Linked DNA regions of Homo sapiens: all the other regions are linked to region 1. The links come from fine-mapping of genetic effects on gene expression. A gene starts in region 1. Each other region holds a variant in brackets. All regions are shown on one strand. Distances are from middle to middle.

Region 1 (11,000 bases):
TTCTCAGTATTTCCTTATGTTAATCTTTTATTTCTGTAAGGTCAGTAGTAACGTCTCCTCTAACATTCCTGATTTTAGGAATTTGAGTCTTTTTTCTTTTTTTCTTGTTCAGTCTAGTGAAAGCCTCATCATTTAAAAAAATATATTTTTGAAGGTCCAACTTCTGGTTCTGTTGAAAACCAGACATTTAAAAAATATGACATGGCAGCTCTGGAAAATGGAGTCTTTCTCCCTCCTGGGCTTTTTTTGTTGTTGCTACCATTTATTGTTGCTTGTTTAGTCACTTTTCTGAACTACTTCTATAAAGTCTATATTCTTTGTCCTGTGTGGCTACTCGCACTGCTTCGTTAGTTTAATGTTTCTGCTTGCTTAGCTTAGTGTTCTGCTAATGAGTAGACATATTTTCTGAAGACCTGGAAACAACATATCTCCCAGGGTTTAGTGAGGGTCTGTGTGTACTGGAGCATGGCTTCAACACTAAGGCAGGCAGTTAATAACTCTCCCTTAGCCTTCACTTCCTACTTATGTAGAGCCTGAAGATCAGCCTAAGGTGAATGCTTAGGGTCTTCACAGGTCTTTCCTGAGTGTATGAACAGTTTCACACAGCTGTGGACATGTGTGTGAGCTTCTAGATCCCCAGGAATGTGTTGGAGTTGGTATTAGGCCATTTTCACACTGCTGACAAAAACATACCTGAGACTGGGCAATTTACAAATGAAGTGGTTTATTGGACTCACAGTTTCACGTGGCTGGGGAGGCTTCACAGTCATGGCAGAAGGTGAAAGGCATGTCTCACATGGTGGCAGACAAGAGAATAGAGTTTGTGCAAGGAAACTCCCCTTTTTAGAACCATTGGATCTTGTGATACTTATTCACTATCATGAGAACAGTACAGGAAAGACCCACCCCCATGATTCAACCATCTCCCACCAGGTCCCTTCTACAACACATGGGAATCCAAGATGAGTTTTGGGTGGGGACACAGCCAAACTATATCATTCTGTCCCCGGCCCCTCCCAAATCTCATGTTTCAAAACCAATCATGCCTTCCCAGCAGTCCCCAAAAGTCTTAACTCATTTCAGCATTAACTCAAAAGTCCACAGTCCAAAGTCTCATCTGAGACAGGGCAAGTCCCTTCTGCCTATGAGCATGTAAAATCAAAAGCAAGTTAGTTACTTGCTAGATACAATGGAGGTACAGGCATTGGGTAAATATAGCCATTCCAAATTGGAGAAATTGGCTAAAACAAAGGGGCTACAGGCCCCAGGCAAGTCCAAAATCCAGCAGGGCAGTCAAATCTTAAAGATCCAAAATGATTTCCTTTGACTCCATGTCTTGTATCCAGGTCATGCTGATACAAGAGATGGGTTCCCATGGTCTTGGGGAGCCCTCCCCTGTGGCATTGCAGGATACAGCCTCCCTCTCAGCTGCTTTCATGGACTGGCGTTGAGTGTCTGTGGTTTTTCCAGGCACATGGTGCAAGCTGTCAGGAGAGCTACCCTCCAAGGGGTCTGGAGGATGGTGGCCCTTTCTCACAGCTCCACTAGGCAGTGCCCGAGTAGGGACTCTGTGTGGGGGCTACAACCCCACATTTCCCTTCCTCACTGCCCTAGCAGAGGTTTTCTGTGAGGGTGTTGTCCCTGCAGCAAACTTCTGCCTGGGCATCCAGGTGTTTCCACACATCCTCTGAAATCTAGGTAGAGGTTCCCAAACCTCAATTCTTGACTTGTGTGCACTCACAGGTACAACACCACATGGAAGCTGCCAAGGCTTGGGGCTTGCACCCTCTGAAGCCATGGCCTGAGCTCTATGTTGGCCCCTTTCAGTCACAGCTGGAGTGGCTGAGACACAGGGTACCAAGTCAGTGGACTGCACACAGCATAGGCACCCTGGGCCTGGCCCAGGAAACTATTTTTTCCTCCTGGGCCTCCAGACCTATGAATGGAAGGGGCTGCCGTGAAGACATCTGACATGGCCTGGAGACATCTTCCAGATTAACATTCAGCTCCTCATTACTTATGCATATTTCTGAAGCTGGTCAGAATTTCTCTTCAGGAAATGAGATTTTCTTTTCGATTGCATTGTCAGGCTGCAAATTTTCCAAACTTTTATGCTCTGCTTCCCTTATAAAACTGAATGCCTTTAACAGCACCCAAGTCACCTCTTGAATGCTTTGCTGCTTAGAAATTTCTTCCGCCGGATACCCTAAATCATCTCTTTCAGCTTCAAAGTTCCACAAATCTCTAGGGCAGGAGCAAAATGCTGCCAGTCTCTTTGCCAAAACATAACAAGAGTCACCCTTCTCCATCTGAGACCACCTCAGTCTGGATTTCATTGTCCATACCATTATCAGCATTTTGGGCAAAGCCATTCAACAAGTCTCTAGGAAGTTCCACACTTTCCCACATTTTTCTGTCTTCTTCTGAGCCCTCCAAACTGTTCCAACCTCGGTCTGTTACACAGTTCCAAAGTCACTTCCACATTTTTGGGTATCTTTTCAGCAATGCCCCACTCTACTGGTACCAATTCACTGTATTAGTCCCTTTTCACACTGCCATAAAAATATACCTGAGATTGGACAACTTACAAAAGAAAGAGGTTTATTGGACTTACAGTTTCATGTGGCCTGGGAGGCCTCACAATCATGGCAGAAGGTAAAAGTAACGTCTCATGTGGTGGCAGACAAGAGAAGAGAGTTTGTACAGGGGAACTCCCCTTTTTAAAACCATCAGACCTTGTGAGACTTATTCACTATCATGAGAACAACACAGGAAAGATCTGCCCCCATGATTCAACCACCTTCCACCAGATCCCTCCTACAACACATGGGAATTCAAGATGAGATTTGGGTGGGGACACAGCCAAACCATATCAGAGTTTTCAAAGTTCCTGTGGACATCTCATTCTCCAGCTTTTCCTTTTGAGGTAGGAGATCAGCAGGATTTGTTTTTTGAGCGCTGGTCAATACCCCTGTCACTACTGCTCTTACCAGAGCAGGATCTGGTAGAAAACAGAGTGCAGTAAAGAAACCAGCTGAAACCAGCAAAGGGCAACAAAAGTGACCTCTAGCTGCCCACACTGTTCATTAGTATAAAGACACTCCTGCTGGGACCATGACAGTTTACAAATGCCATGGCAACAAGCCATGGCAACAGCCTGAAAGTTACCTTATATGGATCTAAAAACTCCTCACCTCTAGAAAGTTCTAATAATACACCTCTTAATTAGCATATAATTAAAAGTGGGTATAAATACAGCTTCCAACAGCCCATATGCTGCTACTCTGGGCACACTGCCCATGGGTTACCACTGCTTTGCAAGGAGCAGTATCTCTGCTGCTGCTGTACACTGCCACTTCAATAAAAATTGCTGTCTAACACCAGCAGCTTGCCATCGAATTTTTCCCTGGGTGAAACCAAGAACCTTCCTGGGCTAAGCCCCAGTTTTGGGGCCCTCTTGCCCTGCATCAGTTTTGAGTGTTTGGTTAAGCTGTATTTGGCCCCACCTGTTTCCACTGCCTAAGACAGTGGCAAAGTTAATCAATGTTTTTGTTTTTGACAAATGACCCCTGGGGAAAAGTCTTTGCACTGGGTGAGCCTGGAGTGAAATCAAACAAAGGCAGCCTTGTAAAATCTGCAGAACCACCAGATAGGTCAAATAATGACAGTTCTCTGGAAATTAAGCTCTTTAAAGGAGCTCCAACACCATTCTACTTCCCCTACTGGCTACCAGCCTGCTCGTTTTCACAATTGTGGGCTGTTGGTTTTCAAAGCTACAGTGGAGCTGGACATGTGGCTGTTAGAGTAGGGCAAGTCAAAATGACACAAAACTGGCTGTTCTTAGAGATTCAGCTATTTGAATAAATACTCCCTGGATTGCTGCAAACCTTTGGTAAATTTTCAGAGTTCTAAAAAAGTTAGTTCTGACAATTTTGCCAGTGTTCTCATTGCTGAAGAGAATTTTCAGAGGTCCTTACACCTTCATTTTGGCTGACATCACTTTAAGGCTATGATTAGAACATAGATCCTCTCACTCCTTGACCAAGCCTTCTTCTATTTAAATTAGTGGTCATCAAACTTTACGTATGTCAGAATTACCTGGAAGGCTTGTAAAAATACAGCTGGGCAACATACCTAGAGTTTCTGATTCAAGTCTGAGGTTGAACCTGAGAATTTGCATTTTATGTATTTATTTATTTTTTATTTTTATTTTTTTGAGACAGTCTCACTCTGTCACCTAGGCCGGAGTGCAGTGGCGTGATCTCTGCTCACTACAGCCTCTGCCTACTGGGTTCAAGGGATTCTCCTGCTTCAGCCTCCCGAGTAGATGGGACTACAGGCATGTGCCACCACGCCCAGCTAATTTTTGTATTTTTGGGTACAGACAGGATTTCACTATGTTGGCCAGGCTGGTCTTGAACTCCTCAAGTGATCTGCCCACCTCAGCCTCCCAAAGTGCTGGGATTACAGGCATGGGCCACCACGCCTTGCCAGAATTTGCATTTTTAAAAAGTTCCTAAGTAATGCTGATGCTGTTGGTGTAGGGATTATAATATACTTTAGGAACCACTGCAGTATATCATGTAGTACCTTCAATCCATTGCCTTAGATAGTGCTTCCCAACCCTGGAATCAACAATAATACATATAAGCGAATAATACATACTATTATCTCTATATAGTAATACAATACATAAGCTAATATGTATTTAGTACTTCATTGTAGGTATGATATGCTTTACATTGATTAGGTTATTTAATCTATACAACTCATGAATTGGTATTATTACTTTCCCATATTTATAATAAACTGGAAATCGAGGTCAGAGAACAAAGTAGATTGCCCAGAGGCACACGGCTACAAATGCAGGAGCCAGTATGTGAATATGTCTGCTTGATTCTAGAGTACAGGCTTTTTCAGCCTCCATACCAGTGTTTCTCATAGTAACATAGATCACTTATGATGCCTTGGTTAACTGTAGTTGGGACACGCATGCAGGATTAAAAACAATGACTCATATAGTGAGAAAGTGATTGCTATTCCGGCTCTATTTTTTCTATCCTTTGATGACATCATGATAAAAATACCATTTGAGTGCTGTATCTTTAATGTGTGTCTAATGCTTGGTAGCTTGCCCTTTTAACAAAGACAGTTGTCTTTAGACTTAGAGCCTTTAGTGGACAACAGTTTCTAGCCACAATTTAAAAACATTGTTTTGCATTCATTTTTCTTACAGTTACTTTCAACTTATAATAGGTGATGCTAGTTTTCCATTTATAGTACTTTTATAAAGTCTCCTTCTTAAAGAAATTAAAGAAAATATACATTTATTTAAAGAAAAAAGGACAGTGAGTAGTATACACAGATACAGTATGAAAAAGGTTGAAATTTGGGAATCCCTGCCTTCTAGAACAGGTTAATGTATCCAGTTGGGCCAATCTGGAACACCCTAAAGGGAAACTAGGGAAATGTAATTAAAATATGAATTTTGTTTTTTTTCAAAGAGGTACTTGGATGGTTAAAGTCAGAACTCCTATAGCAACACGTGTGAAGGCAGAGTAATATCAAGCAAGGAATGGTTTTTTGGTAAGAAACGTACTACAGGAGTGGGCTGGGATTCAGATTGGATTTCACAAAATGTCTGGCAAATTCTCATAAACCTAAATTTCTACAGTAAATTTTGGGTAATTTATTTCCATCAACAGCAAAAAAAAATTAGTCTCAGTTCACTGGCAAGAGAGTTCGCTGTTGTTAAGGGGACAGCACAAGAAGTGGGGCTCTTAATTCGCGGGGGAGGGGTGGCGATGAATATATCCTGGGCATCAGGCGACGGGTCGGGGGTGGGGAATAAGAGAAGACAGAGGGACTGTAATCAGATAAGCGGACACGTTTCAAGATGAATAAAGGGAATATGTGCGGAACGAAGAAACAGTTTTGTATCACTGACATAATTAACTAAACTGTTACCCAGGTTTAAATTAAGCAAGGTGTCCGGGGACTGCAGCTGTTGTATTTATTTTGGTTGCATGTGATGGGAGCTGTTACTTCCCGGCTTGACAAACAGCCTCAAGATGCAAGCTGGGAGGCTGTGGTCAGCCCAAGGCTATACAGAGGAAAGGCAGGCCTCCTCTGAACCCCGCCCCAGCAGAATAAGAAGCGAGGGGCAAGGGTCAGCGCGGAGAGGGAGGGTGGAAAGCGCCATATAGTGCCCAGGGTCAGGGTGGGTAAACAAGCCTTTCTTCGTGTCATTTTTTTTTTTTGTCTCACCGATATCTGCATTGTAACTGAACTTTATGCCAGGAGACCTTAACCTTGTTAATCAGGTTTCCAGTCGAATCAGGATCGATTTTAATGCCTCCATTTTGGTTGTTGCTGTTGGAATTTCCGAAAAAGCCTAACTGCGCCAGTCTTTCTGTTAGTTCTCCACACCCCCTTCCCTTTCCGAGACCCCGCCCTTTTCTCTCAGCCCAAACCACAAAAGGCCGCGCAGTTTTAGCTCCTACACGGTGCTCCGCCCCCTCCCCAAACGTCGCAGTACTGCAGGGAAAGGAGGTGGGCTCGGCTGGGGCGGGGGACTGAGTCGGCTTCGTCTTTCCGCTCTTCAGCCAATTGGTGAACTCCCCCTGAGGGAGATGGGGGAGCAGGCTGTAGAGAAGGTCCAAGTATTTTTCCCTTTTTCTGCCACGTCCCAACCATTGACGTGAGCCCACTCCTCAGGTTCTGATTGGGCGTATGCATTGTCCCCCAGCAGAGACCCTGTAAGCTGACTGGTCATCTCTGCTATGGGGGAGGGGCTTGCGTACTCTCCTCCTTCGCCTCCACCGCGGCGCAAGGGGCGGGACTCACCGCCACCGCCTCTGCTTCCGCCGCCGCCACCGCCGCCGCCGCCGCCACAGCCGCCAGCCGCTTCGCGTTCGGCGGGGGAGGAGTTGGAGGCGGAGAAGAAGGCGGTGGTGGCGGGTGGAGGTTCGAGCGCTGTTCTCGCTCCGGAGCCGCTGCACATTTCGGTGAGGGTTTTTTTTTTTTTTTTTCAGTCTGGCTTGTTCCGCTGTCGGGAGTGTGGGGGTCGGGGCGAGGAAATTGCTGCGTTCAGCTCCTCAGTTTCTCTGTCTCTAGCTTCGGAAGGAGCGGGGCTTGTCCCTGGCCTGCTGCGCCGGCCATGGTGGGTGGGGTTGATGGCTGTGGGAGGCCTTCTTCGCCTCCTGGGCCCTGTCCAGCCCGGACCCGGGCCGCGCTCCTATCCGGGACGGTCGCGCCCGCCGCCCCCCGACAGATGACATTGGTTGGTATCGGGGTCTTCGCTGCCGCTCTTTACTGCTGCCTCTTCTGCTGTCCTTGGTGACTTGGCCAAGGAGCCCGCTGGCTTTCCCCTACACTCGCCACTGTACAAGAGTTTGCCCCCCAACCAACACCTCACACCCACCTTCTGCGGTTTCCCGTCACCCCGCGTAGAGCGGAACCATCTTACGCCACAGGCCTGCAGCACCCCTCCCCCGAGGAGCCTTCTGTTGCCGTCGTTTTGCTGGGCGTCTGCATTTTCCCCGATTGTCAGTGAGGCTCGGCACGCAGACACCCCGCTCGAGCCGCAGCAGTCGCTCTACTCCCGGGATCAGCACCTTTCCGCCAGGGCTGCTCTCAGTTAGCGATGTCAGGCCAGAGCTCCTCTTGCAGATGCACCTTTAATTTGGCCTCCCTCAGATGACTGGTAATCATTTTGCGCACATTCAAAATGGTGAGGTTAAAGACGCTCAGACCAAGTTGAAGCAAAGGGGAGGTGGTAAATAGTCGTTTTGCAGGGAGGAGAGTAATCTGAGAGTTCCTTCTCCGGACATTAAAAAAAAAAAAATTTACATCCGCATAGGCGCTTCTTTTGAGTCTGCTGGTTCTGTGAAGTTTAAAATTTTCATTGCAGGCTTAATGTATTCTGTTTTATCATGAAATATTTGGTCACATTTCTTTAAAATGGCAGTCACCTTTGCTGAAGGCTACGGATCATTTGAAGTGTATGTGAATAAACCTGAGGATAACAGTAATAAACGTTTAAACTGTATTTTTCAGTGTTGTAATTGTCTTTTGGGGTTCATGTCATTTTTATATGAGATGACCACTTAATTTTAAAAATTCATTGCAGACATGCAAGTTTGATGTACACTTCAACAATATAAATAACGGACTGTTAGGTAAAATTTAAATATTTCTTTTCATCCCCCAGTCCCACTCCAGTGTAAAGTTGACAGTTTAGTGTTCATTTTTCAAAATCTTGCAAATGCACTTCTAGACACATACAAGTACACGTAAAGTTTTTTTTTTTGAGGGAGGCTATACCATATACCAAACATGTTTGCATACCGCTTGCTTATTGACTTAATTACATATGTTGGACATTTTTACTTTTTACATATAGGTCTCCCTAATACTTTTTAAAAGGCTAACTGGTATCTCGTGAGTTTGAATGGGCTATAATTTATTCTATTCCCTTTTTGAAAGACATTTAATTGCAGTTTCTTTTTGCTATTACAAATGATGATTTATAATGAAAATAACTTTCTAATTTATTGATCGATGTTTAATTACAAATTTTAATTCATCCTTGATTTTAAAAAATTAAACAGTATGGAAGAATGTAAGGTAAAAATTACCGCTTCCACTTCTAGTCCTGCTTGCATCTTGATTGTCAGCCACTGTTAACAATTCAGTAAACTTCCTCTATGTGTGATTATTTCTGGAGCATGGGTTCCTAGAAGTGAAGTTGCTCAGTTAAAAGATTATGCATATTTTAAATTTTGGTAACCCTTTCTCCCTCTTTATTACTCTTGTTGAAAATATTCTTGAATGTTTCTTATGCATTTCTTCTTCTAGGTAAACTTTAGACTGAACTAAAAATCCTTAGCTATTTTGAATAAGGTTATATTGAAATTTTAGATTAATTTGGAGACAACTGATCTTTATAGTATTGAGTCTCTCTCCTCAGAAATGTGGCCTCTCCATTTTATTCACATCTTGTTTTATACTGTTAGGGAAATTTTTATAGTTTTTCTTTTTTTTCTTCATACGTATAACATTCCTTCCTGGTATTCCTATTTTATGGTTTGATTCGTGTGGTGGATGGAAACTTTCAGTAACATTTCTCTCTCTCTGTTTTCTCTGGTTATAGCAAAACTTTTGAGTTTTCTATCATGTATCAGATTATTTTATTGAGTTGATTATCAGGAGATATTCACAGTTTTGTGGTTTCCTTTTCAGTTTTTATAACTTATGTGTTTTTCTCATTGCTTTTGCAATTATACATCTTATAAAATGTTGAGCACTGGTAGATTAAAAACTAATAGCACTGATAGCTAACAACAAACATGGCATTGTTTCTGACTTTAAGGGGGAATGCTTCTAATGTTTTAGCATTAATTATGATGTTTGGTGAAGCTTTCTGGTAAAGCCGCTGATATTAAAATATTTCCTTCTAGTCTTGGCTTTCCAAGATGCTTATGTTGTTGTTTTTGACATTTTTAAAAACCATAAATGAGTTTTCTTATATATATTTTTTTGACATCTTTTGAGGTGGGTATATGTGGGCATCACCAGTATTCCCTGGTTTATATTTTCCTGAGAGAGCACCCTCTTAGAAAATCAACCTTATTGAGGATAACTTAGATACAGTAAAATGTACTTATTTGAAATGTACAGTGTATTTTGTTTTGACAAATATGTGCTCTGTGACCACCACCACAGTCAAGAGTGGAATATTTTCATACCACAATTAAGATATAGAATATTTTCATCTCCCCCAAAGTTCCCTTTTGCAGTCAATCACAATTTCACCCTCAGGACTAGGAAAGCACTTATCATCTTTTTCTTGCTATAAATTGGTATCATTTTGTCTAGAATTTCATGTAAGTGGAATGATGTAATACATACTCTTTTGTATCTGGCTTTTTCTCTTGGCATGTTTTTCAGGATTATCCATGTTTTTCTGTATTTAACGGGTTCTCATTTTATTGCTGAATAGAAGTCCTTGGTATTGATTTACTAGTTTGTTGACCATTCCACCTATTTACAGATACTTGGATTGTTTCCAGTTTGGGGCTGTTATTAATAAATAGCCTTCATTTGTTGAACATTCCTTTATTCAATGAACATTCATTTATTTTGAATTTTTGTGAACATCTTTTTTTTCTTGGTAAATACCTAGACATGGAACTTGTTGGGTTGTATGATACATGGATGTTTATAAGAAACTGCCAAACTGTTTTCCAGAGTGGTTGTCACATTTTACATATCCATCAGCAGTGTATGACAGTTCCAATTGCTCCACATCATCCTCAGCACTTGGTTATTTCAGTCTTTTAAATTTTAGCCCTTTTAGTGGGTATATAGTAGTATCATACTGGGATTTTGATTTGCATTTACCAGATGACTAATGGTGCTGAGAATTTGCTCTAGTGTATGTCTTCCTTTGTGAAGTATCTGTTGACATTTTTTGCTCATTAAAAAACAAACAAACAACAATGGGTGGGCCTGGCGCGGTGGCTCACGCCTGTAATCCCAGCACTTTGGGAGTCCGAGGCAGGCGGATCACGAGGTCAGGAGATCCAGACCATCCTGGCTAACACGGTGAAGCCCCATCTCTACTAAAAATACAAAAAATTAGCCGGGCGTGGTGGCGGATACCTGTAGTGCCAGCTACTCCGGCTGAGTTAGGATAATGGCGTGAACCCGGGAGGTGGAGCTCGCAGTGAGCCAAGATCGTGCCACTGCACTCCAGCCTGGGCGACAGAGCGAGACTCCGTCTCAAAAAAAAAAAAAAAAAAAAATGGGTTTGTCTTATTGAGTTGTAAGCATTTTTTAATACATTCTTTATACAACTCATTTGACACACAGAGATACATAAACACACACACACACTGCAATCTGAAGCTTGTTTTTTTTTTATTTTCCTAACTTTAAAAGAAGAGCTTTTAATTTTGATAAATTCATCTTACCAACTTTTTCTTATGATTTGTGCT
Region 2 (11,000 bases), 26 kb after region 1:
GGCTATATTAATACCAGACAAAATAGATTTAAGGAGAGAAGTGTTATGAGAGATAAGAGAAAAAAAAATCATGATGAGTGGGCCAATTTATCAAGAAGACATAATTCTAAATATGTTTTCACATAGTAACACAGCTTCCAAATATGTAAGACAGAAGCTAAAATAGCTAAAAAGAAAGGTAGATCTGTATTCCTAGCTGGAGATTTTAAATACATTCAAAGTAACTGGTAGAACAATAAGATTTAAAAAAGTTTTAGTAAAGGAATAAGAAATTTGAATGGTATGATTAATCAACTTAACCTAATTGACATTTATAGAACATTATATTCAACAACTGAAGGCTTTACATTATTTTTAAGTGCATATGGGACATGTGCAAAAATATTCTGGGTCATAAAGTAGTATCATTAATCTTCAAAGAATTTAAATCATACAATGCATGTTTTCTGATCACTATAGAATTATATTACAACCCAATAACAAAAAAAAAAAAATAGACTGCAAATATTTGGAAATTAAGCAAGACACTTCTGAGTAGCCTGTGGATGAAAAACAAAGTCACTGTGGAAATTAGAAAACATTTTAATCTGAAAAATAATAAAAATAATACGTATCAGAACTTTTGGAATACAGCTGAAGCAATGCTTAGAGGTAACTTTATGCTTTAGATGTATAAATTAGTAAAGAACAAAGGTTTACAATCAGTAGTCTAAGCTCCTATCTCAAGGGAGCAATGAATTAAACCCAAGGAAGTAGAAAGAAGGAAATAGTATAAAAGTAGAAATCAATGAAACAGGAAAGTTTTACAGTCAGTTAGTTAAGAAAACTTTTAAAAAATGAAAACCTGTAATGACCTGATTAAGAAAAATGAGAGAAAACACAAATTACTAGTAACAGGGATGAAAAAAAGAGACTTCACTACAGATCCTCTCTATATTAAATTGTTAATGAAAGGGAATTATGTACAACTTGATAATACATTTGACAACTTGAATGAAAGGTCATAATCCCTGAAAAACACAGTTTAGTCAGCTGACATATAAAGAAATAGAAAATCTGAGTTGTTCTGTGTCTATTAAGGTAGTTGAATTTATCAAAAACCTTTCCACAAAGAAAATCCTAGACCTGATGGCTTCACTGACAAATCTGCCTTACATTTAAGTAAGATATAATCCTGGGTTTACACAGACTCTTCTAGAGAACAAGAAGAAGATAGAAAGATTTATTTGCATATTTTATGACTTTAGTATAATCTTGATAGGAAAACCTGACAAAAGCATGACGAGACTATTTTAAGCCAATATTTCTCATGAACATAGGTAAAAGAATAATCCAGTGAGATATAAAAGGGTTAATGTATTGTGACCAACATGGATTTGTTTGGGGAATGTAAAATAGCTTTCTAATAACATTTGTCATAGTTTGTCATAAATGCATTTTGTCATAAAGTTTGTAGTTCTTAATTTATATCTCAGTTGTGATAATAGGTGTAAATTATCAAAATTCCGTGTGTCTAAGGAATTCATTCACTAAAAGGAAATGCAGGGTAAGTTAATTATACAAGACTGATTTAAGAGGAATTTTAAATGTTTTTAGGGCATTTTGGAGGCATATATGTAAATATAAATATGAGAGAATAAAAAATATTCTAATGGACTTGGAAGAGTAACCAAGACTTTTCCTTCAAGTAAGGATCAAATTGTATTTGATTCTCAACCTTTTTTTTCTAGAAAAGATACTTTAAAAGTGAGTTATTTCTGGCTCCCAGCAGATGAGTCATAAGGGTGTAGATCCACGCTATCAGTTGAAACCCTTCTTCTGGAAGTTTAGCTGATTTTTGTCTCCCTGTGCCTAAATCTTCATTTTAATTTACATTGTTTGTATTTGTTACCTGTTGCAGGATAAGAGAGTAGAGTAACTTGTTGTCCTGCAGTGGACATAGCAACTCAGACATTTATCATCACATAGTCCCAGTGGGTTCGAAATTCAGGAGCAGCCTGGTTGCTGATTTTGGTTCAAGTCTCTCAAGAGGTTGCAGTCAAATGTAGGCTGGGACTGCAGTCATCTGAAGGGTAATGCACTAGGGCATTACCCTTTCCAGGTTGCTCATCCATGTGGCTGTTGCCGGAAGACCTTAGTTTTTGTGGATTTTGTCAGGAACGGTCAGTATTTCACCATGTGGGCTTTCTGTGGGTCTACTTGAGTGATATCATGATGTGGCAGCTGGTTTCTTCCAGAAAGAGTGAGCAGAGAAATTAAGGAAGCCACAATCCTTTTATTACCCTATTCTTGCACATCACACACAGTCACATCCATCACACTGTCTTCATTAGAAACAAGTCACAAGAGAGGGCTCTAATACTGAGAGCAGTTTATTAACTTGCCTAAATGAAGTTTGAATCCATGTGTGCCCAAATACTTAGCCCTCTTTTTCCATTATGTGACCACATTTCCATCAGAGAAAGGAGCACAGAATTATCTCATTCATTCATTCGTTTGTTCAGTAACTGTTTAAATATACTGTCAGACAATGTACTAGACAAAGTGTATGTAAATAAAAAATAAACAGGCCTTTGTCTTTAAATTCACTAGTTTACTGTGAGAAGTGTACCTTACATGTCCATGTTCTTCCTTGCATTCTTTAAAGATGATTCCTATTGTCTGTCCAGATCTGTTGGCATAATATCCTGGTTGAAATGATAAAGTGATTACTTCTAGGTTAATAATTCAGAGATCCAGAAATTAATACGTCCTTGATTGAGTCCTTTAATTCTTAGCAACACGTTTATATATTTGTTTTAGTATTAGTAAGAAGTATGTAAAAACCCCGAATTGTTTGAAGTGACTAATTGTCACAAGTAGAGAGCAGTCTGTTATAAACATGTTAGGTGAATAGTACCTGGAGGAAACAACTAATCAGCAAAGGAAATGTCTATTTAGAGAAAAACTAGGTGTTCCCAATTTACCTTAGCTACAAATTTGGACTGATTAATCATTTTAATCTTGACCCTAGCTATGGTCTTTATTCCCTACTTATCTCTTCCCTGTTTTGCTTTTTTTCTTATTTTTTATACTTAGAGATAGAAAGTGGTAGACGGAATATAGAGGTCTCGGATTAAGTAGAAATAATTAGTATCTACAGAGAGATTCTAGTCTATATTCATAACACAAGAACTACTATTAAATAATAATCACAGAATAAGAAAGTATGAGAAATTAAAAAGATTGTTACAGAGAGTAATGACAGGCTAAGAGAATAAGGAAAGGCTAAGGGAAAGAAGTAAAAATGAGTGAAATCTCCCAGTCTGTAGAGTGAAAATATGAAAGAAAAGTTTAGAGACAAATGATTAACCCATTTGGGCCAAATAAAGAAAAAGTAGTGAGGAAAAAGATGTATTTGAGACGTGTACAAGAGTCTCTAAATTAAAATAGCTCTTCCAGTGCTGTGTAGGAAAAATTTAAACATGGCCTGCCCCAAACAAGTCTTTGTGAAATTATAGAATACCAGCTATTTAGATAGACCCTAAATATTCCAGACAGAAAAATTTGGTGTTTCTACAAAATGAGGATAAATAGGTAGACAGGTAGGACACAGTGCCTTTCAGAGTTTAGAAAAAATGATTTTGTCTTGAACTGTACTAAAGTATGAGGGAGATAGTATTTTCAGATGTCCAAGGACTCAGTGTTTGCCTCCAACATATACTTGTTGAAACCATTATTTGAGGATCTTCCAGTAAAGGGAAAAAAAAAATGATAAAAACATGGAATTCAAAGTAGGGTACTTAACCTGAGCGGGTAGTACAATCAAAAGATTTCCACAGAAGTAGCTGATTAATAGCCCTTGAAAACACGTAGACTAAATTTAGATCAGGATGTTAGACGGCTCCGAAGAGTATCTTTAAGAAGAAAAGTGGAATCACATTAAAGAAAAGTTTAAGAAACAGGGTGATTTCCATGATTTCTGTACTGTTTCCAATTCCTTTCCTCTCTTTAGTAGCATTCCTATCAGGCATTTGCACCAACCATGCTACCAAAGGTGCCGCCATTCGCCATTATCCTCCATGTTGCTAAGTGGTCAGTGATAGGCCTTCATCATACTTTAACTTTTGGCACGATCAGTTCTGCCTAAAACACTTTCTTCACTTGGTGTTCACACTTCAGTATTTTTCTTTTCTCTCACTGCCCTCTGTTGTTTTTTCTGCTATAGGTTAAGCATCCCTAATTCAAAAATTTAACATTTGAAAAATGTTCCAAAATCTGAAACTTTTTTTTTTTTTTGAGACAGAGTCTCACTGACCTCAGGTGATTGCTTGCCTTGGCCTTCCAAAGTGCTGGGATTACAGGTGTGAGCAACTGCACCTGGCCCCAAAATCTGAAACATTTTTACTGCCAATATGGCACCATAATTTTAACATTCCACACATCAGTACTTAACAGAAGCTTTATTTCATGCACACAATTATTAAAAGTATTGTATAAAATTACTTTCAGACTGTGTGTGTAAGATGTGTAGGAAACAAGTGAATTTTCTGTTTAGACTTGGATGTCATCCCCACGATATCTCATTATGTATATGCAAATATTCAAAGATTTGAAAAAATCCCAAATCCGCACTTCTGGTTCCAAGCATTTTGGAAAAGGGATACTCAATCTCTGCTTCTTTTTCCCTGGCCTCTTCATATTTGATTTTCTCAGGGCTTAACTTCACTTCTCCATGTACACCTAGAGATCTCATCCAAGTTCATACCTGTTTTGGTATAATCTATACACTGACAACTCCCAAATTATACTAACAGCTCATAATTCTTCAGTCAACACCAGACTCCTATTTAATATTTCCATTTGAATGTCTAATAGATATCTCAAACTTAACTCATCCAAAACTGAACTGAATATATTTTCTTCAAATCTGGCTCTTCCACAATTTTTCCTACATTAATTGAAATTTACTCCATTTTTCCCATTGCCCAGCCTGTAAAACCTGGAGTCAACCTCGACCTTCTTTCATATCCTATATTAGTAAATTTTGTTGATTGTATTTTTACAATATGTCCAGAATCTGGTCATTTCTTACCATCTTTATTTTAACCCTGGTCCAAACCACTATGATCTCTTACCAGTATTATTTTGATAGCTTTTTAACAGTGCTCCCTGCTTTAGACCTCATTCCTCTTCATGCTATTCAATACAGTAGCCAGAGCATTCTTCTTAAAACAGAAGTCAAATATCTCTTCTGTGGTCAGAACTTTGATGGTTTTCCATCTCAGAATAAAACGCACATTTCAGCCAGGCACTGTGGCTCATGCCTGTAATCCCAGCACTTTGGGTGGCCAAGGCAGGTGGATCACGTGGTCAGGAGTTTGAGACCAGCCTGACCAATATGGTGAAACCCTGTCTCTACTAAAAATACAAAAATTAGCCGGGCATGGTGGCACACGCCTACAGTCCCAGCTACTGGGAGGCTGAGGCAGGAGAATCACTTGAACCCGTGAGGTGGAAGTTGCAGTGAGCCGAGATCAAGCCCCTGCACTCCAGCCTGGGCGACAGAGCAAGACTCGCCCTCAAAAAAAAAAAAGTTAAAACACTGTTAATTAGCACCTATGTTTTTGCCAGTATGTTAAGATTATTATTATTTTTATATTCCTTTTCTCTTTAGCTGTTGCTAACAGCCTCTTTTGATTCAGATACTTTAAAGGATCATAACTTGTTACTGAATTTATAAATTATATGGGTGAATGTGGGTTTGTACTCTTACGTATGTTAATATATATCTGTCTGTGATTAGACAGGTAACATATAAATTAAACTCATTTGCAGAGCTATTGCATTAATGATGAGCAATTAGCAGTAGCTCA[A/G]GTGTTTAAATAAATAAGGTGTTTAAATAAAAACTTAACCAAACTTTCAAAAAAACCACAGGTTGCAACTTCTCAAATAGTACTTTTCAAATAGTAAATAAATGCATTAATTTCAAAACAGAAGTTCTTTTTGTATTTGTTCCATGATAAATTGTAGTTTTTCCTGATTGAAAATAGGTTCTTATTTGGGATTAAATTATCTGATCAACTGACTATTGCAAAGAATAAATACATCATTATTTACACACATTAATTATTGTTATAAGCCATTACACATTTTTAAAAAATGAAGTTTGTATTCTTACAGTTACCTTTTAGCAATTCCAGGGCTAAAGGAACTTTACTGCTTGACAGAGAAGCAATGATAGCACAGTGTAGTAGACTCCCAAATAGTTTGGTTACATACCTGAGTCAGTACTTCTGATATTTTTGTTTGTTTACTTACAAATTATGTATGTGTTGTTGTCATTGACAGTCTTAAGGATGATATATACTTAGGCAAGGTTTATCAAGAGCAGATGTAAATCTGTATTTCACATAGCCATTTTGGTATTTCTGAGAGTTTTTGATTGGCTTGTCAAATTGTGTTGTATTTTTCTTGTTTTTATTTATTTTTGGGACGGGATCTCACTTTGTCACCCAGGCCTGGAGTGCAGTGGCATGATCTCGGCTCACTGCAGCCTCCACCTCCTGGGCTCAAGCAATCCTCCCACCACAGCCTCCTGAGGGACTAGAGGTGTGCACCACCACGCCTGGCTAATTTTTGTATTTCTTGCAGAGACAGACTTTCACCATGTTGGCCAGGTTGTTCTCGAATTCCTGAGCTCAAACTGATTTGCTCGCCTTGGCCTGCCAAAGTGCTGTAATCTAAGGCGGATCACAGGCATTTGCCACCATGCTGGCTACATCACATTGTATTTTTCTAAGTTTTATTATAAGACTTCACTAGGAGGAGCAGAAGTATCAGTTTTGCTATTTTTGTGCTTTTATTAATATATTGTTCAATTCATTGTTTCTTTGTAGGAATCTTCTGCGGCTTGTCCATAGTGTGAATAAAAACTAAATCACATCTATAATTCTACTGAACTGGTCACACAGACGCTGCCATATATGTCACAGTACACTGAAAAGGAGCCAGCAGGTAAGGAAAGTCAGTTCTTCTACATTGAGTACTTCTTGTTTTTTCCTCTGGGTACCTTGAGTACCAGTAAGTGACATATGATCATCTGACCTGTGGTCTTACTAAAAGGCTGGTTTTGATCCATATATTGAATATTTGTAAAGCTTAGTTTCTAATTTTTGATAGGTAAAAATAGAAATTCTGGTATTTTCTTTCCATACCCATTTAGCTTGGAAAGCTTTATGCTTTCCACTTCGGAGACTATTCTTTTGGTAGAATTGTTAAGGGCATTGGTTCTGGAGTCATACTTTTGGATTATTAGACAAGTTATCCAACACTTAATTTTAACTTTAATTTTTCAATTTTTAAAATAGAATACAATATCCACCTCAAGATTACTGATGGGATTAAATAAGTGTAACACTTGATATTATTTATACTCGATATGTGCGTGTATTATAAATACATGTTTGTTTCTGTTTCCTTCTTGGAAGTGATTATATTTCTTATTTTAATACAACTAAGAAATTATGTAACTGTTTCATTCATTCATTTATTCATTTTTTTTTTTTTTTTGAGATGGAGTTTCGAACTGTCACCCAAGCTGGAGTGCAGTGGCACAGTCTTGGCTCACTGCAACCTCCGCCTCCTGGGTTCAAGTGATTCTCATGCCTCAGCTTCCTGAGTAGCTGGAATTATGGGCATGTGCCACCACGTCTGGCTAATTTTTGTATTTTTAGTAGAGACGGGGTTTCGCCATGTTGGCTAGGCTGATCTCGAACTCCTGGCCTCAAGTGATCCGACTGCCTCATCCTCCCAAAGTACCGGGATTACAGGCATGAGCCACCATGCCCAGCAACTGTTGCATTTATTGACTATACCATATGCTGTGAGAAAATATTTTGTTTAGTTGCTGTGTAGTACATGTAATGTATAATTGACTAAGCAGACTTACACTTAATATATATATGTGTGTGTATAATAATGTACTACTTAGTGAAAGTTGCTGCTGTTTACTACTGTATACCCCTCAGTCAACAAAACTTAATTGTCAAGTCATGTAAATGTTGATGGCTTTTCTTACCATAACATATACCATTTATTGGTAGTTTTGAAGGCAGGGTAGTATGTGTTTGACCTGGCTCATTGCTGTTTTCTTTTGGATAGTTTTATCTGACGTTAATCTTTGGAACATATTTATTGTGATCTAGTTGATTCTTCATGGTACAGATACCATTTAAAGAGGTTACTTGTTATCTTTGACATAAATGTTTTCATTCTTAAAGTAATTGAAACCATCATATCATAATGCTAGTAATTGATTCATCAAATATGTATTGAGCACTTATATTAATATAATATATAAGGTACTTAATTTGGAAGATCTCCCATAAAGAGCTTTGGCAGTATAATAATTTGGCATATGAAAAATATTTTTTGATAGGTTTCATTATAAAAATCTGAAATACCTTAAAGAAACCAAATTTTAAAACATATTTTTTGAAGGGAAAAGGCCACTAACTCTTATTATATAGTACTTCATATTTAATTTTCTAGTGTGTGAAGAATAATGTTTTATAGTACTAGTAAGGTACACTTCATGTTCAGAAGCATATGATTTGATAAATAATAAAATATAAACTGAAGTAGTTTTCCCCAACAGGTTGCAAGAATAAAGCTCATTGCTGTTCCTGTTTTAATTTTTTAACTTTTTTTTCAGCAATGGACCAAGAATCTGGTAAGGCTGTCTGGCCCAAACCAGCAGGAGGGTATCAGACAATTACAGGCAGGAGATATGGAAGAAGACATGCTTATGTCAGTTTTAAACCATGTATGACCAGACATGAAAGAAGCTTAGGTCGGGCTGGTGATGACTATGAAGTGTTGGAACTAGATGATGTTCCAAAGGAAAATTCCTCAGGTGTGTAACATTTAATTATTTAAAGGTTATTAATAGTTATATAGGAATTGATCTTATAATTAAATTTTTGGGTGGGTATTATGCATGTCTGTGAGTGTAAATGCAGCACACTTCCTATCAAGAAATTCTATTTTGAAATTCTTATTGAATTTAATATTAATGGTGTATATATTTAAACATTGTAGAAGAAAATAGAATACAGCCAATCATTAAAATATAACCACACTCTCATAGTAGTGATTACGTTGTCATAACCTCCAGCCAAAGGAAATCATCTTTGAATCAAAAAGATATATTTTGAAATTTTTAAAAATGTGGATCAAGTAGAGATATTTTTTCCCTGCATATAATATTTAAATAACTTTTCTTCTTCTTCTTTTTTTTTTTTTGAGATGGAGTCACGTTCTGTTGCCCAGGATGGACTGCAGTAGTGCATCTTGGCTGACTGCAACCTCCATCTCCCAGGTTCAAACAATTCTTGTGCCTCAGCCTCCTTAGTAGCTGGGATTACAGGTGTTTGTCACTGCACCCAGCTAATTTTTGTATTTTTAGTAGAGACAGGGTTTCACCACGTTGGCCAGGCTGATCTCAAACTCCTGACCTCTCAAGTGATCCACCTGTCTTGGCTGGCTTCCCAAAGTGCTGGGATTACAGGTGTGAGTCACCATGCCTGGCGTTCTTTTTTTTTTTTTTTTTTTGAGATGGAATCTTACTTTGTCATCCAGGCTGGTGTGCAGTGACGTGATCTGGGCTCCCTGCAGCCTCCACCTCCTGGGTTCAAGTGGTTCTCCTGCCTCAGCCTCCCAAGTAGCTGGGACTACAGGCATGCGCCTCCACGCCTAATTTTTGTATTTTTTGGTAGAGATGGGGTTTTGCCATGTTGCCCAGGCTGGTCTCGAACTCCTGACCTCAAGTGGTCCGTCCAACTCAGCCTCCCAAAGTGCTGGGATTACAGACATGGGCCATTGTGCCCGGCCAACTTTTCTTCTTTTAATTTTATCCTAAATTTAACTTGGCTTGTTTATTTTTTCATCATTTTACAAAATCCAAAGGACAAGGAAGGCTTATTCAATTAAAATTTCTTAGTTATTCAATGGTTTTGAAAAAGTATTTTGCAGCTATCCATGTACCATAATTGCACATTTTTGGACTGGATTTGTCTTCTTCCTCTTGTTCTAAGCAAACTTGACAAGACATTTCTAGATTATTTTTGCTGTCATATGTAAGAATCTGAATTACTAGCTAGGGTCATCCCATTGAAGAACCCTTCGTTCCCAGCTACTTGGGAGGCTGAGGCAGGAGAATGGTGTGAACCTGGGAGGCGGAGCTTGCAGTGAGCCGAGATCATGCCACTGCACTCCAGCCTGGGCCACAGAGCAAGACTCCGTCTCAAAAAAAAAAAAAAAAAAAAAAAAAGAACCCTTCGTACCATATATCAAAGAACCCTTCGTACCATATATCATGGCCGAACTTCAGTTATTTTACAATTCATGAATTTTTATTCCAGCAAATCTCAAATGTCTTCATTTTTTTTATTAGTGGTGATGCAAGATAGTTATGCTTAAAGTAATTTATAGATATGATTTTACTCATGTTTCAGAATTCTCACAATTATGACAAGAATCAACATATTGATCTCTTTGTTGTTTTTCAGTCATAACTATAACACATCTAAAGTAAACTTATTACAAATGTATTACAACAATTCAATTTATAATCTGTCGAGATACTGAGATATAATTTTGTGAATTGCCAACAAAACACAATAGGGTCTAATTTCTCTTAAATCTGTAACTATAGTTATTATATCTGTCATAAGTACTTTTGAAGGTTTTTTGTTTTGTTGTTGTTTTTACCTGCATATAATAAAGAAGGTAAGTTTGGAAATCACTGGGAAGCAGATTGGTTACCCTAGACTCCACTTACGAGAGGCTTCCCATTGTATAACCTCTCAAGAGCTTCTCCTTTATATGTCTTGCAGAAGGCATTAGATATTAGGATTTAGATAGAAAACTGCCAAAGCCATGTGAGGGAGATGATAGTGAAAGGCTGTACATTGACATAAATGAACTCATAGAGTAATCAGTCTGCATTCTCAGTTAAG
Region 3 (11,000 bases), 67 kb after region 1:
TATGGGGAATTGGAGGAGATTCATAATTATAGCTATGTGAGAAGGAAAGGGACTGATAACAGGATCTTACCTTCCATTTCCTATCTTGCAATGGGAAAGTTCAATATAAGGAATTCTAAACTAGAACAAAGAAGTAGAGTAACAAGGGATTGGCTAGGAGGAAATAAAGATAATTACACAGAATATGGGAAAAGCGCATATAAGGAGCAGCCACCACCTGTCTGGCAAAGCTAGGACAACCCAAGGAAGAGTCCCTAGTCCATCTCAGGGCTGAGGTCACCTTGATGGAAATGGCACAGCTGTGGCTTGCTGTATGAGAGAGAAGTCACTTGGGTATGTGCTGGTGAAACTTGCTGGAAGTCAGCTCTCTTAGGGTGCTGAGGAAAGCTATTCATAGGAAGGTTTCTAACTGGAAGTGCTGTACTGCAGAACTGTCCAACATGGATGCTGGGGGAGGCTGCCACCTACTAAGTGCATTACAGGAACTGGCTGCTAGAGAAGCTGTGTGCACTGAGTCTAGTGCTAGAGAAAGCCACGAACATCACTCTAGTCCCAGTGTGCTCTGTCAAGCAAGCACACTGGGACAGAAGGAAGGCCCTTTCCTCCAGCAGTGTTCTTCAACATCCTCTGTGAACAAAGCTTAGCATCATGCCAGCTGTTAGGAGGGAAAGTATTTAAACAGCCCAGATTTTCACAGAGCCGACACAATAGTGAATATGGATTTGTGGAGCAATAATTCCATAAATGGAACATTCCAGCACTTTGATAACTTGGCTTCCATATATACCTTTCAATGCACATTTAAATTTCCATCCATCAATAGAATTGTATTTCCACCCAACAAAATACAGCTATTACTACAAATGAAGTTTCACCCATTTCCCAGAATGAGCAGATGGCTAGTTCCAAGAGGCATTGTATCCATCGCTAGTTATGCATTACTCCACACATTCATAGTAACACTGAATATTCTCTTATATAAAGACTAAATTGCAAATTTAACTTCCAACAACTGGCATATTGAAATAGAAATGGGAAAGAGGAAAAGTAAACTGTTAACATATATAAATAAGCAGATACATAAAACAAGCACATAAAATATGCAGAATTACTAATCCTTGTTCTGTATTTGCTCATGAGACTGAATGATAGCTATAACTTCTTTCTTCCATGACCCAGTCATATTTTCCCTGCCCTCAGCCAGAAGCTCACTCAGCTGGTTAGGATTCTTTACTTGGTAGAATAACCCAGACCTACACTGTTTATATCTTCAGTTCTTTCTTTTTTTGTCTGCTGTAGTTCTGGTAACTTTACTGTTGGGCATGAAAGCAGTAAGAGATTCACACTCCAGGTGAGATTATCACAGGGTTTTCAAGCAGAGGAAGCCTAGTCTGTGGAGGGCACACTGTTTCTACTGGTAACAGGAGGCTCAGAGTGACTTGGGGATTCAAAGTTATCAGTTTCCTCAGAGTTCAGTCAGATGTCTTCATTCCAGGTTTCAGAATCTTATTCCTTAACCAATCAATGGTAAAACTTTTGAGAAATTTGATGAGACTAAGAAGTCAACTCTAATTTTCATTTAGCAATCCACACAATTACATTTTGCGTTTGATTTTTAGGAGCAAGAGCATCTTTTAGGGCTGTCGTGGATGCTTTCTGGCTCTCATACCCTATTGTGAGGTTTAAGAGACCTGAGTTTGTAATTTTTTTCTGTAAGTGCACAAGGGCACTCTTAATAATCCATCTCACATCACGATTTTTACAGTTAGATCACTGTTGCCGTAAGATCAAGTATAGGAGCTATCTGGGCTTTCAAGACACATGCTTCAGTTGGATCTTCATCACTGTCAACCACAGTGATACCTTGATTAATTGTGATGCCACTACAGACTATGGATTAATAGCATCCCATTCTCATTGGCAAGGAGCTCAACACTGAGCTCAAGCTCAACAGGTGTAACCAAACCAACCCCCAAATCCTTTTCTTGCCAGTTCTGTGTCCCGGGACCACTCTTAATATGAATTCTGTACCAGTCTGAGTTCAGTCCCAAGAGAGAGAAATACAGTAATTTGAACAGGGAAAATTTACTGTAAATATTAACTGCAACAGAAGTTTAGAATACCAAGGGATTGGCTAGTAGGAAGTAAAGCAAACTCTAAAGAATATAGGATTAGCAGATTTAAGAAACAGCTTTAGGGCTGAGATGGAGCACTCTACTTCCCTCCTGTCTAAGGCTGAGAGCCAGACCTTATTGGGAAGGACACAGCCATGGCTTATGGAGGAGTATTTATGGTACTGTGCTGGCAGAACTTGCTGGAAATTTGCCTTCTGGAACATGGCAAAAATCTGCCCTCTGGGGCAAGAGAAACTTCACAGTGATGTGACCAAGCCCCTAGGTACTCTGCTGCAGAACCACCTAAGATGAGTACAAGGAGAAGCTGCTGGCAACCTTGTCCTGTAATTACCAGTTACTGGATAAGCAGCATGTGCTTCAAGAGCCAGGCACTGGAGAAGCCACCCACACTGGAGGAGTCTGATGCTGGAGAAGCCATCTGTGCACAGGGAAGCCTGGCACACTGCAGGGGCAAGCCCAAGGGAACCATGAAGCAAAGTCCTTTCCTTGTGTCTCTCCAGCACCTTCTGCTGACAAAACTTAAAATCATGTCAGCTAACAAAAGGAAAAATATTTAAAAGGCCCAAATCTGTTTTCAAAGGGCAGAAATGAAAGGTGTATTTGGAGCTGAGAAGCAATAATTCAATTACTGGAACAGTGTTTCTTTCTTTTTGCAGTGTTTCTCTGCATATCCAGAGTCAAATTTAGTGTTCAATAATATTAACTATGTTTATTAACTCTTTGTGAACCGTTTTGCTTTTTCCTTTTTTAGTCCTGATTTTGCTTTGGGCTTGGCCCAAGGCAAGTTGTAATCCCTATTATAAGTCATCTCAAATTCTTTTTGGGAATATCTATGGTAGGACCTTAGGCATGTATAAATATTATGTTTGCCATCCAGAAGAATAGAGTGTTAGCTAAGCTATCAGGCAGAATTCTTCTTCTATATGGGAAACCTGGCTTGTTCATTTTTTTTTATTATGGTAAAATAAACATAATATAAAATTTACTATTGCTACAGTTTTTTAAAGTGTACAGTTCAGTGTAATCAAGTGTATTCACATTGCTGTAAACAGTAACTCCCCATTTTCCCATCTTTCCAGCCCCTGGCAACCACCATTCTGTTTTCTGTCTCAATGAATTTGACTACTTTAGGTATCTCATGTAAGAATCATACAGTACTTATCTTTCTGTGACTGGCTTATTTCATTTAGCATAATGTCTTCAAGGTTCATCCATGTCGTGGCATGTGTTAGAATTTCCTTCCTTTTCAAGGCGGAGTAATATTTCACTGTATGTGTATATCACATTTTGCATATTCATCCATCCACCAATGAACAGTTGATTTGCTTCCACCTTTTGGCTCTTGTGAATAATGCTGCAGTGAACATGGGTGTACAGATACTTGTTTTAGTCCCTGTTTTCAGTTCTTTTTGGGTGTATACCCAGAACTAGAATTGCTGGATTATGTGATAATTCTGTTTTTAATTTTGAGGAATTGTTGGGCTGTTTTCTCTAGCAGCTGTAATATTCTGCACTCCAACCAGGAGGGGAGGCCCAGTTTTGATAGTTGTCAAATTTCCTTCAGGTTTTTCATCCCTAAAAAGAAGCCAAGGTCTTTCATAGCTCCATGATCTTATGATGCTGTAATTAGGATATAATACTAACAAGTAATAATTAAACGGTGTAATACCAATTCTTTGAATACAGTAGCAGTTCAGAAGGATACTCGTGCAGTCTAGGACCACTGACATAGGCCTCATGGAAGAGACAGGACTTATGCAGTCCCAGAGGGAGTGATAGGACTTAAAGGATGGACAGAAAGCACCAGGCAGGGGAAGCAGCATGTGCACCAAGAGCAAGTAATTGTACAGGTTGCAGACAAAAAGACAAAAGTCTCAACTGCCATTCTAGTCTAATTAGAGCCAGAAAGGATGAGGATGACGCATCCCAGATGATCACATGATCTGATGTTCTTTCCATCCTTCTTAGAACAGTAATTTGACACAGATATTTGAACCTGTAAATGAAATTCACAACCCAGATAACCTAGTAATACTTGTGAGCTGGTAATGTGGGTGCGCCAAATCCATGCCAGTAGTAGATGTAGCCATTCAGGAGTGCATTATTTGCTTCCATACCTGGAGCTTCTAGTAGCCTCAGCCACATTTTATCTTTCATGAAGTGAACCTTTCCAAAATGTTTATTATTTTCTTTCATGTTATTGATCTCACATAGGAACCAATAGTTGGAAAAAGTAACCACTCCTTCAAAATATAAATACGGAGAAGTAGATGATTATTGAGACAAGGTAGTTTTTTTTTTTTTTTTTTTTTGAGACAGAGTCTCGCTCTGTCACCCAGGCTGGAGTGCATGGTGATCTCAGCTCACTGCAACCTCTGCCTCCCAGGATCAAGCGATTCTCCTGCCTCAGTCTCCCCAGTAGCTGGGATTATAGGCACACACTACCACGACCTGCTTTTTTTTTTTTTTGAGATGGAGTTTCGTTCTTGTTGCTCAGGCTGGAGTGCAATGGCTTGATCTCGGCTCATTACAACCTCTACCTCCTGGGTTCAAGCAATTCTCCTGCCTCAGCCTCCCAAGTAGCTGGGATTACAGGCATGTGCCACCACACCCTGCTAATTTTGTTTTTTTTTTTTTTTTTTTTTACTAGAGACGGGATTTCACCATGTTGGTCAGGCTGTCTTGAACTCCTGACCTCAAGTGACCCACCCCGCCTCGGCCTCCCAAAGTGCTGGGATTACAGGCATGAGCCATTGCGCCCGGCCGAGACAAGGTATATTTTTATTTCACATGTAGAAAGTTGGGCTCTGCGTGTATATTTAATGTTTTGGTTTGTTGGTGATGGTGGTAGTTCCTTCTGAAGAGGCAAAAGGAGCAAAGGACTAAAGCAAAAGAAACTAACAAAAAGAGAATAATGGTGATATAATTTTGGAGATACCCTAAAAATAGTTTTCTGTTACTGTTTTAAAGTATTTCTAACAAAGAACTGTACCTTTTGTTTTTCAGACTGCTCTGGCCCATTTAGAGTCTCTTGCAGTGGATGTTGAGGTGGCCAATCCACCAGCTAGTAAGGAAAGCATTGATGGTCTTCCAGAGACCCTTGTTCTTGAAGATCACACTGGTAAGGGCAAAGTTGATCTCAAATGTTGAAGAACACATTGTACATTTAAGTATATTATCAATATACCTAGATAATTAAATACTTGATTATTAGAAACTTTCACTAGATTTTTTTTATAGAAACCAGATGCTCACAAACTTTCACCTAGTACAAGAATATTTTTAATTTTCAAGCGATAGGCTGAGACAAATGTTCCTCTGTCAGCTTTTTTACAAAGCAGTATTTATTAGATTCCAAATTGCCAAGTATTAGACAGAAATGCCTGCCAATTAACTGGTCAAAGACTGGCTCTTTCGTCTTTCAGAGGTATCTTCTATGAGTATAATATGTTGCTTTTCAGTTTTACTAAAATTGAACTACGTGTGATTGACCTGAATTATTTGTTGTTTTCAGCTATTGGTCAGGAACAATGCTGTCCAATCTGTTGCAGTGAGTATATTAAGGATGATATAGCAACAGAGTTGCCCTGTCACCATTTCTTTCACAAACCTTGTGTCTCAATTTGGCTACAAAAGGTGAGTGATAGAATAATTAAAAATTTAAAAATACTTTAATAGTGTCTTCTGCAAGTGAATAATAGTATCTTTTTTTTTTTTTTTTTTTTGGTGAGACAAAGTTTCGCTCTTGTCACCTAGGCTGGAGTGCAGTGGTTCGATCTCGGCTCACTGCAACCTCTGCCTCCAGGGTTCAAGCGATTCTCCTGCCTCAGCCTCCCAAGTAGCTGGGATTACAGGCACCCACCACCAAGCTCAGCTAATTTTTTGTATTTTTAGTAGAGACAGAGTTTCGCCATGTTGGTCAGGCTGGTCTCGAACTCCTGACCTCAGGTGATCCGCCTGCCTCAGCCTCCCAAAGTGCTGGGATTTCAGGCATGAGCCACCACGCCCAGCCAATAGTAGTATCTTTTAAACCTGTTTTATTTAGCCGCAAATTTGTAGTACTTTTTAATTCATTGTTAAAAACCTGATTGCATTTAATGATTACAGATCAGGGATAATATGGAAATATTTTATTTTACTAACATTGTCTAAAAATATAGACAATAATAACAACATGTTTTTAATCATTTTAGGAAGTGATTAAATATCTGAAAACTCATTTTAGAATAAAGCTGATTAGAATTTTAATCATAACCCTGAAATTTGGTGTTTTCAAAAGTATCTAAAGCAGAGAAGCCTTTGGCACTACTCAAAGTACTATAACAATATACAGCTATTCTGCTAATACAGGTTGGTGTTTCTGAAATGTATATGAGAGA[T/C]ACTTAATAACCTACCAAGTAGCTCCTATTCCAGTTTTTATATATTGTCTTCAAATATTTACCCAATAAATCTTTTTTTTTTTTTTTTTTTTTTTTATGGTACATTATCTCTCTTTATTTACATATTTTCTTTTTTTCTTTCTTTCTTTCTTTCTTTTTTTTTTTTTTTTTTTGCACCGCCCTTAATCCATTTAATCCTGAGTGGACACAGCACATGTTTCAGAGAGCACAGGGTTGGGGGTAAGGTCACAGATCAACAGGATCCCAAGAGAGAGGAATTTTTCTTAGTGCAGAACAAAATGAAAAGTCTCCCATGTCTACTTCTTTCTACACAGACACGGCAACCATCCGATTTCTCAATCTTTTCCCCACCTTTCCCGCCTTTCTATTCCACAAAGCCGCCATTGTCATCCTGGCCCGTTCTCAATGAGCTGTTGGGCACACCTCCCAGACGGGGTGGTGGCCGGGCAGAGGGGCTCCTCACCTCCCAGTAGGGGTGGCCGGGCAGAGGCGCCCCTCACCTCCCGGACGGGGCGGCTGGCCGGGCAGGGGGGCTGACCCCCCCCCCACCTCCCTCCCGGACGGGGCGGCTGGCCGGGCGGGGGGCTGACCCCCCAACCTCCCTCCCGGACGGGGCGGCTGGCCGGGCAGAGGGGCTCCTCACTTCCCAGTAGGGGCGGCCGGGCAGAGGCGCCCCTCACCTCCCGGACGGGGCGGCTGGCCGGGCGGGGGGGCTGACTCCCCCCACCTCCCTCCCGGACGGGGCGGCTGGCCAGGCGGGGGGCTGACACCCCCACCTCCCTCCCGGACGGGGCGGCTGGCCGGGCAGAGGGGCTCCTCACTTCCCAGTAGGGGCGGCCGGGCAGAGGCGCCCCTCACCTCCCGGACGGGGCGGCTGGCCGGGTGGGGGAGCTGACCCCCCCCACCTCCCTCCCGGACGGGGTGGCTGGCCGGGCGGGGGGCTGACCCCCCCACCTCCCTCCCGGACGGGGCGGCTGGCCGGGCGGGGGGCCGACATCCCCACCTCCCTCCCGGACCGGGCGGCTGGCCGGGCAGGGGGCCGACCCCCCCACCTCCCTCCCGGACGGGGCGGCTGGCCGGGCGGGGGGCCGATCCCCCCACCTCCCTCCCGGACAGGGCGGCTGGCCGGGCAGAGGGGCTCCTCACTTCCCAGTAGGGGCGGCCGGGCAGAGGCGCCCCTCACCTCCTGGACAGGGCGGCTGGCCGGGCGGGGGGGCTGACCCCCCCCCACCTCCCTCCCGGACGGGGCGGCTGGCCGGGCGGGGGGCTGACCCCCCCACCTCCCTCCCGGACGGGGCGGCTGGCCGGGCGGGGGGCCGACATCCCCACCTCCCTCCCGGACGGGGCGGCTGGCCGGGCGGAGGGCTGACCCCCCCACCTCCCTCCCGGACGGGGCGGCTGGCCCGGCGGGGGGCCGACCCCCCCACCTCCCTCCCGGACGGGGCGGCTGGCCGGGCAGAGGGGCTCCTCACTTCCCAGTAGGGGCGGCCGGGCAGAGGCGCCCCTCACCTCCCAGACGGGGCGGCTGGCCGGGCGGAGGGCTCACCCCCCCACCTCCCTCCCGGACGGGGCGGCTGGCCAGGCGGGGGGCTGACCCCCCCACCTCCCTCCCGGACGGGGCGGCTGGCCGGGCGGGGGGCCGACCCCCCCACCTCCCTCCCGGACGGGGCGGCTGGCCGGGCAGAGGGGCTCCTCACTTCCCAGTAGGGGCGGCCAGGCAGAGGCGCCCCTCACCTCCCAGACGGGGCGGCTGGCCGGGCGGAGGGCTCACCCCCCCACCTCCCTCCCGGACGGGGCGGCTGGCCAGGCGGGGGGCTGACCCCCCCACCTCCCTCCCGGACGGGGCGGCTGGCCGGGCGGGGGGCTGACCCCCCCCCACCTCCCTCCCGGACGGGGTGGCTGCCGGGCGGAGACGCTCCTCACTTCCCAGATGGGGTGGCTGCCGGGCGGAGAGGCTCCTCACTTCTCAGACGGGGCAGCTGCCGGGCGGAGGGGCTCCTCACTTCTCAGACGGGGTGGTTGCCCGGCAGAGGGTCTCCTCACTTCTCAGACGGGGCGGCCGGGCAGAGATGCTCCTCACCTCCCAGACGGGGTCTCGGCCGGGCAGAGGCGCTCCTCACATCCCAGATGGGGCGGCGGGGCAGAGGCGCTCCCCACATCTCAGAGGATGGGCGGCCGGGCAGAGATGCTCCTCACTTCCTAGATGTGATGGCGGCTGGGAAGAGGCGCTCCTCACTTCCTAGATGGGATGGCGGCCGGGCGGAGACGCTCCTCACTTTCCAGACTGGGCAGCCAGGCAGAGGGGCTCCTCACATCCCAGACGATGGGTGGCCAGGCAGAGACGCTCCTCACTTCCCAGACGGGGTGGCAGCCGGGCAGAGGCTGCAATCTTGGCACTTTGGGAGGCCAAGGCAGGCGGCTGGGAGGTGTAGGTTGTAGTGAGCCGAGATCACGCCACTGCACTCCAGCCTGGGCACCATTGAGCACTGAGTGAACGAGACTCCGTCTGCAATCCCGGCACCTCGGGAGGTCGAGGTTGGCGGATCACTCGCGGTTAGGGGCTGGAGACCGGCCCGGCCAACACAGCGAAACCCCATCTCCACCAAAACCAGTCAGGTGTGGCGGCGCGAGCCTGCAATCGCAGGCACTGGGCAGGCTGAGGCAGGAGAATCAGGCAGGGAGGTTGCAGTGAGCCGAGATGGCAGCAGTACAGTCCAGCTGCGGCTCCGCATGAGAGGGAGACCGTGGGGAGAGGGAGGGGGAGGGGGAGGGGGAGGGGGAGGGGGAGGGGGAGGGGGAGGGGGAGGGACCCAATAAATCTTAAGCATATTTGAATTATTTAAATAAAGGAAGTGTTTTATTTCAGTCTTCTCTGTGAACTCTGTTTTTGCATAAAGGATATTTACCATCCAGTTCACTAGGAATTCCCAAGTCACTTTCCCAAATTATCTACTTAGGAATACAACTCCCTTTCTTCCCTATAAACCAGTGCTTTTTTTCTCCTTCCCTTTTCCCATTCCTTTCCTTCCTTCCGTCTTTCCTTTTCCTTTCTTTGCTGTTCCTCTATTTCTATTTGCCACTTTGTTCTTCTCAAAATTCCACTTAAAATCTCTGAAATCCAGTTTAGAAATGTTCACTGTTCTTTTATAAAATATCTCTGTATGAGATAACCCATAGTGCCTGTCAGGTAGTAAGTGCCCAGTAAATATTTTACAAATCATATCAGATGAAAGCTATTATTAGAAATTAGAGGTGTTTTTATTTTATTAACAACAAAATCACAAATAAAAACTTATGGTGCAAGTTACAAAGACCAGCTAGCAGTCTTCAGTAAACAGCACGTGCTAATGTGTATTATTTGAGGAGTATTGTCTGCATAGAGATAATGTGTGTCTCAAGTCTCATGAGACTTCCTGGTATTCTGGATTGAGGTATAATGCTGGATTCTGAATTAGTTTTAAAATACTGCTTTCCTTGCTCTCTCCCTTCTCCCAGAACAAAATTTGGGAAATAATATTTTAGGTGATTTTTCTTAATCTGTTTATCTGGCATTTTGTTAATACAGCCTAGATGGCTGTGCTGTACAATATACCAACCTCTAGTGTTTTTATAAGAGTTGAAGTAGGTAATCCATGATGAATTTAATATAGTGTTTGGCACATAGTAAACATATAGGAAAAGTAATGGTAAACTTATTACTAATGAAAGTTAGAATTCAGTAGAAAATGACTTTTTCAGTGTCTGTACATGATGGTGGTAGTAGTGGAAGTAGGTGTTATTAAAATTATTGGGGAAGCAGAAAATGCAGAGCCACCAACTCTTAAAATTTTCGAGCATGGCTGAGTCTGTGAGGTCCATTCCCTCATTTCATTTCTACTCCCATACATTAGACCTTCAACCCTTGTTGTCTTAACTACTATTGTAGTGACCTACTTTATTTCCTTACTTCCTTTAGAGGTACTTTCTTTTCATTTCTTTTTTATTTGCATAAATCTGTGGGGTACATGTGCAACTTTGTTACATGCATAGGTTATGTAGTGGTCAAGTCAGGGCTTTTAGGATATCCCATCACCTGGATAACATACATTATACCCATTAACTAATTTCTCATCATCTTCGCCTCTTCCTATCCCCTCACTCTTCCAAATCTTCATTATCTATCATGCCATCATTAAAGGCATTTTCTGAAATGTAGTTCTGATAATGTACTTCCCTTCTCATAAAAGAAAGAGAGGGACCTCCAGTCACCTGTGGAATAATCTGAAGTTTTAATCTTGACATTCAAGGCCTTCTGTGATTTAGACCCCCAACTTGTTTCTTCAGATTTACTTTTCTGTACACTTGCTCATGTTTCTATGCATTTGCTCCTGAAGTCTGGCATGATTTTTCCCTATACCATCTGTAAGATTAGATGATATAGGTAGGTGCAGTTTAAATTCCACCTTTTCTGTCCTTAATAAATGCC

Which allele goes with the higher level. Alleles are on the strand shown, and positions count from the first base shown. SD is a standard deviation of normalised expression in the study named. Not every link is listed here.
With allele C in place of T in region 3, the expression in non-classical monocytes of the gene that starts at base 6,875 in region 1 is lower (large effect, 1.2 SD a copy in Schmiedel 2018).

Evidence for each region. PIP is the estimated chance that this variant, and not a neighbour inherited with it, causes the effect.
Region 2: its variant is fine-mapped to the expression of PJA2 in whole blood (INTERVAL, PIP 0.96).
Region 3: its variant is fine-mapped to the expression of PJA2 in non-classical monocytes (Schmiedel 2018, PIP 0.95).

Annotation. Positions count from the first base shown.
Region 1 is chr5:109,405,849-109,416,848 of GRCh38, reverse strand. PJA2 (praja ring finger ubiquitin ligase 2) reads left to right here and starts at 6,875. Exons shown (of 10, transcript NM_014819.5): 1 at 6,875-7,007. RefSeq lists enhancers at 6,241-6,420, 7,531-7,650, 7,691-7,790 and a silencer at 6,931-7,010.
Region 2 is chr5:109,379,399-109,390,398 of GRCh38, reverse strand. It overlaps PJA2 (praja ring finger ubiquitin ligase 2), which reads left to right. Exons shown (of 10, transcript NM_014819.5): 2 at 6,879-6,996; 3 at 8,696-8,896. The coding sequence starts at 6,966. Among named protein-coding and RNA genes, the nearest start is that of PJA2, 25 kb to the left of the region's middle. The variant A/G (reference allele first, on the strand shown) is at 5,856.
Region 3 is chr5:109,338,961-109,349,960 of GRCh38, reverse strand. PJA2 (praja ring finger ubiquitin ligase 2) reads left to right here. Exons shown (of 10, transcript NM_014819.5): 8 at 5,142-5,256; 9 at 5,650-5,771. Among named protein-coding and RNA genes, the nearest start is that of PJA2, 66 kb to the left of the region's middle. The variant T/C (reference allele first, on the strand shown) is at 6,515.